Linked DNA regions of Homo sapiens: all the other regions are linked to region 1. The links come from fine-mapping of genetic effects on gene expression. A gene starts in region 1. Each other region holds a variant in brackets. All regions are shown on one strand. Distances are from middle to middle.

Region 1 (4,362 bases):
TACTCCCCTCAAGACGGGCTAATTTCCCTCCCCTTGAATGTGAGCTGGCATTAATAACTAACTTCTAACAAGTGATGGTGTGTAGGCCACAATAAAAAGTGTTGGAGCTTCCTCTCTTGAGTCACTCACTCTGAGGAAAGCCAGCTGCCACGAGAATCATGAGGACAGTCAAGCAGCCCTATGGAGAGATTCACATGCTGAGGAATTGAGGCTTCCTGCCAACAATGAGCATTAACTTGTCAGGTCTGTGAATGAGCCACCTTGAAAGAGAATCCTGCCGCACCAGCCCCAGTCAAGCCTTCAGATGGCTGCAATGCCAGTCAACATCCTGACTGCAACCTCACAAGATACACTGAGCCAGTTAAGCTGCTCTTAGATTCCTGACCAACAAAAACTATTTGAGATAGTAAGTGCTTATTTTTTTTTAAGCTACTAGGCTTTAGGCTAATTTGATATACAGCAATCGATAACTAATACATTGGTTGATACAAAAATATATCAAATACTGAAAATAAAGGATAGGGAAAAATAAGAACTAATTTCTTTGCTTTGAACTTTGAATGATTTGGAAAACATTGTAATGGCACTAACTGTAAGTTACTCAATTATATTCTCAAGTCTTGAGGCAAAGGCCATGTCTGCTCAATAAACATTTGCTGGAGTCTAGTAAATGTTTAACAACTGAACAAGATGTTCAGAACTGACAAGAATATTTTAATATAGATAGGAGGGAACGTCCATCTCCTCTCTTTTGGACACTATGCTTTTTTTTTAACACTAGATCATACTGCAATACACTATACTTTTATTACTGCAGCAAAACCAATTTTTACAGCAGAAGTATCACGCTGCTAGTATACACTGGAAGTTTAGATTTGCTAAGTGTTTTAAGATAGAAATAAGTCCACAGGTTATTTCCTCACTATATTTTCTCCTATTCATCTCAGCATTCATATGACAGATGTGCCATTCTATGTTAAATTTTTCTGATGACTACCAGTTTCAACACTAAACCACAAAAGGAAAAAAGATATAGTGCAGGGAAAAGCATTGTTGAAGAATAAATATTCTATAATGAACTGTTCACTCCATGTATCAAAAGCAGAACTGAAATGTTACCTAGCCATCATTTGATCAGTTCTAACAGGTTCACCTTGCATTCTATCTTTAAAATCCTTAGGCTGGGCGCAGTGGCTTGCACCTGCAATCCTAGCACTTTGGGAGGCCGAGGAAAGAGGATTACTTGAGCCCAGGAGCACAGGAGATCAGCCTGAGGGCAATATAGTGAGGGCTTGTCTTTCAAAAAAAAAAAACCTTAAAAAAAAAGTAGCCAAGTGGTGGCACACGCCTAGCAGGAGGCTCGCTTGAGCCTAGGAGGTGGAGGTTGCACTGAGCCAAGATCATGCCACTGCACTCCAGGCTAGGCAACAGAGCAAGAATGTTTCTAAATAAATAAATACATAAAATAAAATCCTTAAGCCAATCTTCATTTACCAACCAATTTTTAATTCTTTTATTTGTTACCACATTGTCTCTCCTGAATATCCAAAGGCTCAAAGCCTTGGTTTGAATGCAGCTAAATTCATTGGGTTTGATCTCAAGTCAAACTTAGAAATACTGTCATCTCAGCCACAAATTTCACACTAAAGTAGATAGAAACCACTACTAAATCACTACTTTGTCTTAAAATGAAAGTATAATAGACTGTAAGGTTATAATTGCTTTTTTAAGTTAAACTTTGTTTTACATTTACAGAAAATTTGCAAAAATGGAGTCCCCACACCCCCTTCATCCAATTTCCCCTACCATTAATATCTTACAATACCATGGTATATCTGTCACAATAAAGAAATCGGTATTGGCACTATTACCTAAATTCCACACTTTGTTCAGATTCGCTAGTTTTCCATTAATGTCCTTTTTCTGCTGGAGATCCCAGCCAGGATACCACATTACATTTAATCATTATGCATCATTTTCTCTGGCATAATAGTTTCTCAGACTTTTCTTGTTTTTGAGTAGTGATTAGGTAATTTGTAAAATGCTAACCAGCGATCTCAGCTCACCATAACTTCCGCCTCTCGGGCTCAAGAGATTCTCCCACCTCAACCTCCCGAGTAGCCGGGACTACAGGCGTTCACCACCACACCAGGCTAATTTTTGTATTTTTAGTAGAAACGGGGTTTCGCCATGTTAGCCAGGCTGGTCTCCAACTCCTAACCTCAAGTGATCCGCCCGCCTCGGCCTCCCAAAGTGCTGGGATCACAGACGTGAGCCACCGCGTTCGGCCCCTTTTTCTAATATTGTCTAAAATAAGTATCCTAAACAGGAAATACCAAAAAAATCCCCCTCGCTTTCGTGACCTACACCGGTAAGCGTCAGGATCTTTCGCTATGCGAGAACCTTTTGGCTCTCGTATGTGCGCATGCGTCTGGATCCGGAGCCAGGTGACCCGCTCAGACGTGGACCATGTGCGGGGGAGGGGGGAAAGGAGCCGCGAAGGGGGTGGTAGACGGAACAGGTGGAGCCGCGGCGGGGCTAGGCGGGGCGGGGAGTGAAACAGCATAGGCTCCGCCCCTCGCGGCGCTTCCCCCGGAATAGCGTCATCAGTTCTATAAGAGAGCGTGTGCCGAAGGCCTCGGCCTTTCACATTCGGGAAGCGTCGGGATTAGGTGAAAGTACGTAGTTGTCTTTCGTAAGTTAAAATGATAATTGGGCCGAAACTTACTGCCTTACCTAAAAGGCAGCGCAGTCAGGATATTGGTAGGTCGGGGGCGGCTTTGGAAACCCTTAAGTTTACAAGCATGCGCGGACTTGAGTGCTCATTAGGTCGCCGGGCGTCCACGTGCAGCCCTGGACCCTGAACCCCGGCGTGCGTGGGCCGTGGGCCCTCGGGGAAAGGTTCCGTGCACTCGGGGACTCCGGTGAAGCCTGTTCAGCCGTCTGTGTCATGTGGCCATCTTGAGTCTACTCTGTCGCTCTTGTGCCCTAGCACCCCGAGAACCGTCAGTTTGAGCCAGATGGTGAGTAATAACCTGTAGCAGTTTGGTTGCTGGTTAATTCTGGATTGTGAATCTCCATGTATCTTTGGGACCTGTCAGCCGTGGCAGTCTCCCTTCCTAGCCATGGAAGAGCATATCCTTGTTTATTGGCAAAGCTGTCACCATTTAATTGGTATCAGATTCTGACTTGCACAAGTAACATTCACTGTTAAAAACCTAGAGGGTGCCGGGTTATTGGGCAAAATTTCTAAACCGTTGTTCAATGTTTCTAGGAAGCTGAGCTGAACACATTACGATGGATGATGGAAACATAAGGTACATTTCTTTTTTGATATTTCTGAGTTAATCTGAAACGCCTTAGCGGCAGGACGTTGGAAAGCTAAAGTTGGCCCGTTTTGCTGGCTTTTGTAGTTTGAGTTAACAACCAACTGAATTAGCTGATAAGATCTCAAAACAGTGAGGTAAGTACACAGCTCGGAGTTTTATAATGCTTTTTTTCTCTTGCAGACTATCAAGAAATCCAAGTGGTAATGGGCGAAGTTTATTCAGCATCCGGCAATGGACTTATCGTAGTTGGGGAAACGGGTGTTCCGAATAATATCCTGGAAGTTATCAGGACACCTATTTTAAATATAGGCCTGAATTTTGTAAAGTAATATTTAAGGTGGTCCGTGATAATTAAATAAAATGCTTAATTCATGTGGCTACTCATTGTTCCTTGACTGAGTGATTAATAGACGGAAAGGTAGTTAATAGCATAATACCTCCTATTTAGTGTTACACGCTCATGTGGAAGTAGTGTGAGTACAGTTCTAAGGTAATTGCAGCCTTTGTGAAAAATGTAAAATATAAAAATTACCAGGCTACCCCCAAGGGAGACAGCAGACTCTTTTTAAACCATACAAAAATTTAAGGCAGTTATACAAGGTGGAAAATTATGTATTTATTTACACAAATATGCACAGAACACTTGTATCTTTCAAAAGTCACACTTAAGACATAGTAAAAGCATGTTGTATGAACCATGTATTCTTAAGGATTGAGCAAACTGCAGGCTGCTTGCTGCCTTTTAGGTTTGCTAGTCCCTGATCTACTTGAAACAGATGTTGCTTGCCCCAACACTAGTTTAATTATAAGGGCAGCCTGTGAGAAAGTTTCAATAGACATTTTTCTCACCTATATTGCACGTTTTTCTGAAGCCCTTGTGCAAGTGTGTGTGCCATGTGTAGTTCTATTTACATATAAACGCTACTTTAAAAGTTTATCAAAATCATGAGTTTTTACAAAAGTTTTTAATGCTCTTCTGCATTATATGCAGCATTGCAAATCTGCAAAGTAGTAAAACTATAAAGCACCTTTA
Region 2 (4,000 bases), 46 kb before region 1:
TGCTTTTTCTACTTTACCGTGGATTTCATGTAATGGAGCTTTTTTCCTCCAATAAATTTTAGATATTGCTTCATAGTTATTCTAAGTCAGTGATTCTCAAGGGTGGTTGCCAGAGCAGCAACATAAGCATCACCAGAAAATTTATTAGAAGTGCAGGCCAGGCACGGTGGCTCACGCCTGTAATCCCAGCACTTTGGGAGGCCGAGGCGGGCAGATCATGAGAGGTCAGGAGATCGAGACCATCCTGGCTAACACGGTGAAATCCCGTCTCCACTAAAAATACAAAAATTTAGCCGGGTGCGGTGGCGGGCGCCTGTAGTCCCAGCTACTCAAGAGGCTGAGGAAGGAGAATGGCGTGAACCCGGCGGGCGGAGCTTGCAGTGAGCCGAGATCACGCCGCTGCACTCTAGCCTGGGCAACAGAGCGAGACTCCGTTTCAAAAAAAAAAAAAAGAAGTGAAATTCTTGGGTTATAACAAAGACTTACCGAATCAGAGATACTGGGATAGGGCTGTGCTATGTTTTAACAAGCCCCCAGATGAATCTGATACATGCTAGTTAGAGGACCACTGTTTTAAGGCAAGCTTGTGAAGCACATTTTTACTTTGTATATCATAGATTACTGTTTTATTCCCTATAATGATCTATGATTACAGACAAACTGTTCATTGTTTGGCTCAGATATAATCTAGGAAGACTACCTCTTTCAATTCATTTTTTAAGACAATATTGCTGTTGACAGAGTTATTTTAACAATTTTTCTATTGTATAGATATGGTAGATTTAAGTAAATATTAAAGAAAGCTTAATTTATAAATACTTAAATAGTATTTATTTACTTAAATATTGCCATATTTGTACCATTTAAGTAAATAAACACTAAAATACTACCTTACTTCCATATTAATACTATTTAAGGGCGGGGCACAGTGGCTCATGCCTGTGATCCCAGCACTTTGGGAGGCTGAGGTGGGCGGATCACCTGAGGTCAGGAGTTCGAGACCAGCCTGGCCAACATGGTGAAACCCCGTCTCTACTAAAAATACAAAAATTAGCTGGGCATGGTGGCAGGTGCCTGTAATCCCAGCTGCTTGTGAGGCTGAGGCATGAGAATCGCTTGAGCCCAGGAGGCAGAGGTTGCAGTGAGCCCAGATCGTGCCACTGCACTCCAGCCTGGGCAACAGAGCAAGACTCCATCTAAAAAAAAATAAATAAATAATAATAATAATACTATTTAAGTAAATACTAGCATATTAATGCTATTTAAGTAAATACTATACTATCATCTTAATACTATTTATACTACTATTATTTAATTAGTACTATTAATAATACCATATTAATACCATTTAAGTAAATAAATAATAAAGAAAGCTTACCTGAAAAATAAGAAAATTCAAAGTTTTGTACAAATGGCAACATGACATAATTACTAAGCATAATTAGAGTAATTTCTCCAAGTGAGAGAAATATTATAAGGCCATGTCTTGTTACTATTGCTAGCTATTGACTTGGAATATAATTATCAAGTCCTGCTCCACAGATTGTATAACAGTGTAAATAATAGTATATTTCTCTCTTAGGAGTAGCCAATATATAGAAATACTTTTATATTATGATCTTTTAAACACAGTCACAGTTACAAGTATTAAATACATGGCTAAATCTTTGACAAACTGAACCCAAACTGCCTTACTTTCTCTTGTACCAATCTGACTAAGCTACACCCTTTATCTCCTCATTTAGTCTTATAAAACCCTAACTGTACAGTTTATGACATTGCTCACTTTTTGAAAAATCACACCCTTGCTCCCCAATAGTCACAAATATATATACGTACCTGTGATACACCATTCTCTTCCCTAGTAAATGCAAATTCTATAAGTTATGTCGCTAAGAAAGGGCACCATTTTTTTTTCCAATTTAGCAATTTAAACAATTTTTGACACTACTAAGTACATTGAAGCTTAAGCAAACTTGTGGAAAGATTAAATTCTGTCTTGAGTTTAATTAGCTTTCATAGGCCTCTGGAAGAACTTAATATGAGAACCCAAGTATTGATTTTGGTAATGTAATATGTTAAATAATAATATATTTCATTTATATAGTGCCTTATTACCGTCAAAATGTCTTCAAGTACATGTTCTTTCATTCTCAGAGAAAATCTATGAAATAAGTAGGCAGGTGATTTTCCATTAAGAAAGCTGAGACAGGTCAGGAGAGGTGACTCACTCCTGTAATCCCAGCACTTTAGGGGGCCAAGGTGGAAGGATTGCATGAGCTCAAGTGTTCAAGACTAGCCTGAGCAACACAGTGAGACCTCATTTCTACTAAAAATT[T/A]AAAAAAAATTAAAAATTAGCCCGGCACAGTGGTGCATCTCTGTAGTCACAGCTACTTGGGAGGCTCAGACAGGAGGATCCCACGAGCCTGGTGTCAAGGTTGTAGTGAGCCATGATTGCACCACCACACTCCAGCCTGGGCAATATAGTAAGATGCTGAAAAAAAAAGAAAGAAAGAGAGAGAAAGAAGGAAAGAAAGAAAAGAAAAGGAAAGAAACAAAGAAAGAAAGAAAAGATAAAAAGAAAACTGAGACAAACAGAAGCTAAAAGACAAAGTCACAGACAAATCAGTCATTGAGCTGAGATTGAAAGCCAGTTCTCTCAATCCCTGCAACAGGCCTCTTTTCACACCACACTATCTCCATTTTTTAGAACCTGCTTCTATTAAACTGCCGATTATCTATTCAATTTATTTCCAGCAGTAGTTGTAATAAATCTGTTTGGATCATTCTAATATTTATTCATGACTTTAAAGTGTTGATCATAGGAAATTGTGTTTTCATTTAATTAATTTCTGAACCTCTATTGTCTTTCTAGGTACCACTGCTTTGTATTTGTTCCTGGTTATGCATCCTTCCATCCTTAGTAACTCCCCCAGCCCAAAAACCTTTGAGGAGGTACAGTTCTTTAATAGAAATAACTACCACAGGGGGATTGATTGGTAAGATGGGTTATTAGTATAAATCTAAAAGTATATGTACTGTGCACAGTATAAACTTAGCACTAATATTTAGAAACATCTAAGTTTGTAGTCACAAATAAAATTTAACCTCTGTGCCTTGGAAATTGATTGAATATCATAAAGGGGCTCAGAAATTTTTCAGAACAAACTCTTCTCAGTTTATAAAGAGACTTGTTATACCAAGAGGATCACATGTAATTTCAATTGGCATTAATTTTCTTTGATGGTAATTATAGATATTAAGTCAGAAGAATAGCATAATATTCAGAAATTTAATTCCTTTCTACTCGTAAGGAAAAAAAATTTTCATATATTTTTCTTCTTGTGCACTTTTTATGAAGTGATGCTACAGCCAACATATGTAATTTTCTATTTTCTTTGTCACATAAAAGGAAAAATAAATAAATAAAACTAGAAATGTTTGTATATTACATGAGTAATCAAAGCTATAAAAAAAACTATCAACAATACACAGAATTTAATTCTTGCCTTTGAATCAAAATTAGAAATATATCAACCATCTGAACAAACACTTAAAAACTAAAAATGTCAGAATACACAAAATACAGTAATGTAGTAGAGATAGATGGTACAAACTAACATGTTAACCATAAAATGTCTCTGAAGGTCTTGCTATGAAGGTATAATGCTGAACAGAGGGTGGTATAAAGGAGTGAATTATAATAATTCTGCAGCATAAATATATTTTGCATGTATTTTAGCATAGTCATATATATCTCTTGTCAAACTGCATGATCTCAATTTTATAATTATCAGCCCCCTGAGGAGCTGCTTATGAGAAGTCCGAATGGAAAGGAAAAGAAATGGATTGAGTATAATTTGAGCACCTACTAGGATTTACATATATTCTAATTGTTATATATTTCACTGCCAATTTTTCAGTTCAGGGTTTGATATTGATTAATTGTGTGGTGTTACATAACAGCTGGAAAATCAAGAAACCATCGACAGTGGCCAGG
Region 3 (4,362 bases), 57 kb after region 1:
GTCTCACTCCTCTTGGCTAGAATGAGGACAGAAATACTGTGTTCCTTTACACCTATGTATTTCAGGTACCTAGTATACAGAGGCATATAATAATTATTTATTGACTGCCTCAACTGACAAGCAATGCTAAATAAACCTAGAAAAGACACTCCAAACAAGAAAAAATAATTGGCAACATCTATTCATTAATTTCTGATTAACAAACAGATATCAGACATATGCCTTGTACAAGGTGTTATGATCAGTGCTGCAGGGCATTCGAAGAGACACCAGACAGACCCGGCCCTCAGGAAGTTTACTGCCTAAGGGCGTCGATAAAAGGAGTACAGACAAGAGATTATCAAAAAACCCTACAGTGGTTCAGAAGCAAAGGACCTTACTCATGGTTGGGGGTACTTAGGGAATCACTTGTGAAAAAGCTGTTTTTTTAAGAGGGCCAAGATAGATGGGATTTGGAAGTCAGAGATGAGGGAAGCATGTTCAGGCCACTTGAACATTATGAACAAAAGAAAGAAGCACAAAGCTGAATGTGTCTGGCAAAGAGTAAAGCAGTCTAATTTTACTAGAATAAAGGACGTAATATGGTAAAAATTAACAGGTTGGTCCTCTAATATGAAGTCTAGTTGTACTTTTTGCCAAATACTAATCATTTATCTGTATGAAATATGTTTCTAATTTTCCACAGTTGTAGCAGTCAGTAAACGGCATTTGGATATTCACACTTAAATTCAAATATCATATTTGAGTTTTGTACACGTGCTGCCAAAGTAAGCACTCATATTTGAGTTTTGTAGCAGAAATTTAGATTAGTGACTATCTGCATATACTGTTTACTTGCATAAGTTAACTAGCACTTACAATTTGTTAATGGATAAAGACAGGTTTAATATATATGGCTGAATGATGGTAATATAATTCTCACAAATTATGATGTTTATTTTTCCTTTAAAAAGCTTACAAAATACAGAAAAACATGTATACATTTCTTAATATATTTTTCCCCACCTGTTAAGCTTGGAGAAAACAGAAAAACAAAAATTTTTAAGAGAAAGTTGAAAACCATCTAGGACCTAGACAGTTTATGGCATAACCACCTTTCACTTTCCTATGTTGTGTTTTATTTTAAAATGTGGTTTCTTTTTCTTTTTGGATGACTGTTAAAATATAAAAAATACAGAAAAGCACAAGGACAAGATTTAGTTAACAGCCCCATCCTTCCAACAAACACAAAACTCATTTGAAAGAAAATTCAGTAAATCAATGGACTCATATTTAGCTTATAGATAATTAAACTCCCCACGTTTTCATTTAGATTGCTGCTATTTTTTGTATCCAAGTTGCATGCAATCTTCTACTTTGAAATGTTGGAAAAGCTACAAGTACAGAATGACAAGACACTAAGTGTAATTCCCAAATTTAAGGGAAGTATACTAAAGATCTATCACTATCCCTTAAGGTGAACTCAATGTTCGCTGATTTCAGCTATACAACTCCACATTCTCATTTAATCTACCACGAGAGAATCTTTTTAAATTCTCACTTCTAATTTATCATAACTTTCTATATTTTATATATGTTTATAGATGACCATAAAATTATCTTTGCAACCAGAATATAAACAGATGAATAGATTATAGAAGGTGGAAGGAGTAAAAAATGTAGATAGATATCCTGAAAAAAAATTATAATTATTTTTAAAATTTTTTACTTTACTACTTGAAAAACATTTTATCAATCAGGTTGAGCATAGAGTAAAACCAATAATCTACAAACAGCAATAAATTATTGGGCCCAGTTCACATCATCCTTGAAGCAGCATTGGATTTAGCAAAAGTAGCATTACCCAAAGGTAGAGAACCAAAAGAAGAAAAGGGAAAACTTACAAGACATCAAGGTTTAACATATGCCTCTCCCAGTCAAAAAAAAAAGGATTATAGCTCTCAGAGTATACACCTGGACTATATCCCTCCATTGGCTCTTCCAGCCAATCCAGAGGAATTACTCCAAAATGGGTCTCTCTGTTTTGTGG[T/C]AGGAGCTTCCTTATTCTTCCCCCTGATACTTGTACTCAAACAAAAACCACTGCCCTGGGCTGACTGCTACCATTCCAAGTCCTGGGATATCTGGTCATGCTGCTATCACCAAGGAAAATGCAAAAAGGGATACCATGAGAGTATGGTGGCTTCAGGTTGTGATCATTCATTAAAATACACCATGGTACCCAGAAAACTCTTTCACCATCTTAAAGGCAGTTGTTCCTTCCTCTACTTCCATGAATATAAACATATCTGTACACTGAACCCATACTGATAATTACCACATACCTACTCTATGGAACTTGGAAGAAGCCCTCATTCAAGCCAACAATCCATTTTTAGGGAAGGTGCTCTCTACAGCCCCAAGAACACTGATGCCATAATTATATTGCATTACACAAAGTGAAAATATTTTGTTGTATTTGCTGTATTCTATATTTACTTTCATGATTATTTTCCAGCTTGATTCCATCATAATTTTCCATGACTAAAATATGTGTTTCATATACAATATATTATACAGTATATATATAACCTATAGAATATACATATTTATTTAAGCAAATTATATAAAATAGAAAATATGTTAAAAATGAGATACCACTGGAAAATCAAATGGAATTCAAATTAACAGTACTCATATTGAAGACTAATTAGATGGTAAAATATTTTGACTCAGACTTATTTCTGTAATTAAAGTCTTTAAGGAAATGATTATAACTAAGACACTTTCATCATCTGGAATCACGTTTAAAACATAATGAAAGTAAAACAACAGAACTTTTTTCTTTTTTTTACCATGGGAAAAGCTACACGTGACAGCAGCTGCCATCTTCTGAGGACACACCCCACCCTGCCAGATGTCTTTTTCACAAAGCAGTATATTTTCTTCATCTCCTCGGCAACGGACATTGCTCCAATAAATGGGAATAAGGCCCAGTCCAGAAAACGGGGTTTGTTTTGCTATTCCTTTTCCTCTGGAAGTACAATGAGCGATATTAGGTTTATCAAATGTAGGCAAAACTTTTTATCAAAACATTTGGATTTGAAAAAAAATGGAAGAAATCAACAAAGATGAATATGGAAGAAACAAAGAAAGAAAGAAGAAAAACACAAAAGACTACATCAGTTTCAAGGAAATCAAAACATCAGATCACAACGTGGTTTGCCTACTTATGGAATTCTTTTCATCAATCTTAAATAACTACTTTATGTGCCTTTACCACCAATGACTGATTTAGAAGAAAATGGCCAAGTACTGCAGACATAAAAAGTAAGGCTGTGTGCAAGAGGTGTGTCACGAGCTTCAGTGAGGCTTGGACTCCAGTCTGGGCTCAGCTAAAAGTCATGCCAAGCTGCAAGTAACTCGAAGGCTTTGTCTTCTAATGTGTCAAAAGAAAAATCTGGATGCTTGAAGATTCTTTCTGACTCTAACATTCTAGGCTAGCATTTTCAAAATTATTATTACTACATCTAAGCACAATAATATCACGGGAGGCAATCCATTTATAATTTTTAAAACCTTACACTGTATATAGTATTTGCTAGCAAGCCTTTGAAACCAATTAATAACATAGCAACATGCATCTCTTTCCTAACACCAGGAGAGTATTTTTAAAAGAAAAAATGAAAATAATAGCATACAGACGGGTTCTGCTTTTAGCTCATCTAATCCACATATTTTTGTAAGTAACCTCTGCTGTGTACAAACTGGCATTAAATTTTAAAAAAGGTGAAATGCTTATCTGATTAACATGGTAATCTCTACAACTGTCTCCATGCTGCAGCATTCCATCAACCAAACTGTAAATATTTGGGGTATATCTAAAATGTAAATGTGTCTTCACAGCAATAAAGCTGGGTTTCTCTGATTTTATCGTGCAATTCCTTTTTTTTTTAAATGGACTACTGAGAGATGATACTATATAAGCAGCTGGATCAGCTTATCTGAAGTTTGTTTGCAGAATAATAGTTTACATACTTTCATCAATCAAAAGACTAATAAACCACACAGTAGTTCACACCTCCACTATAGCGTTCTTGTTTCTTTGTATCTCACAGAAAATTTTATTCCTTTCTGATTTTCCGGGGTAATAAAAGCACAAATAGGTATGTATATAAAGGAAGACATTGACATCAGCCTACAAATTTATTACATCTCTTGCCCCTCAAAGGAAAAAGCATGAAATCATCATTCTTTGTGACCTGCCCACTTGCCAATTGTCTGTTTGCCAGACTAAGTATTCATGATAAAATCAGTAATTAACATTTCCAAGCACCATAACACTTTATAGGCTCTGGCCTTACTCCTTCGTTCATCCTGATTTAT

Which allele goes with the higher level. Positions count from the first base shown, and alleles are read on the strand shown. Sizes are in standard deviations (SD) of each study's normalised expression. Not every link is listed here.
For the expression in cerebellar hemisphere of the gene that starts at base 2,648 in region 1, C is the low allele of the variant in region 3 and T is the other (small effect, 0.31 SD a copy in GTEx).

What was found. PIP is the estimated chance that this variant, and not a neighbour inherited with it, causes the effect.
Region 2: its variant is fine-mapped to the expression of SNHG8 in whole blood (INTERVAL, PIP 0.93).
Region 3: its variant is fine-mapped to the expression of SNHG8 in cerebellar hemisphere (GTEx, PIP 0.96).

The regions. Positions count from the first base shown.
Region 1 is chr4:118,276,115-118,280,476 of GRCh38, forward strand. SNHG8 (small nucleolar RNA host gene 8) reads left to right here and starts at 2,648. Exons shown (of 3, transcript NR_034011.1): 1 at 2,648-2,678; 2 at 3,275-3,317; 3 at 3,510-3,709. It overlaps PRSS12 (serine protease 12), which reads right to left. Exons shown (of 13, transcript NM_003619.4): 13 at 3,924-4,362. SNORA24 (small nucleolar RNA, H/ACA box 24) reads left to right here and starts at 3,076; the gene lies at 3,076-3,206. RefSeq lists an enhancer at 2,176-2,355 and a silencer at 2,426-2,475.
Region 2 is chr4:118,230,137-118,234,136 of GRCh38, forward strand. It overlaps NDST3 (N-deacetylase and N-sulfotransferase 3), which reads left to right. Exons shown (of 14, transcript NM_004784.3): 9 at 2,876-2,999. Among named protein-coding and RNA genes, the nearest start is that of SNHG8, 47 kb to the right of the region's middle. The variant T/A (reference allele first, on the strand shown) is at 2,339.
Region 3 is chr4:118,332,642-118,337,003 of GRCh38, forward strand. It overlaps PRSS12 (serine protease 12), which reads right to left. Exons shown (of 13, transcript NM_003619.4): 3 at 2,832-3,010. Among named protein-coding and RNA genes, the nearest start is that of PRSS12, 18 kb to the right of the region's middle. The variant T/C (reference allele first, on the strand shown) is at 2,030.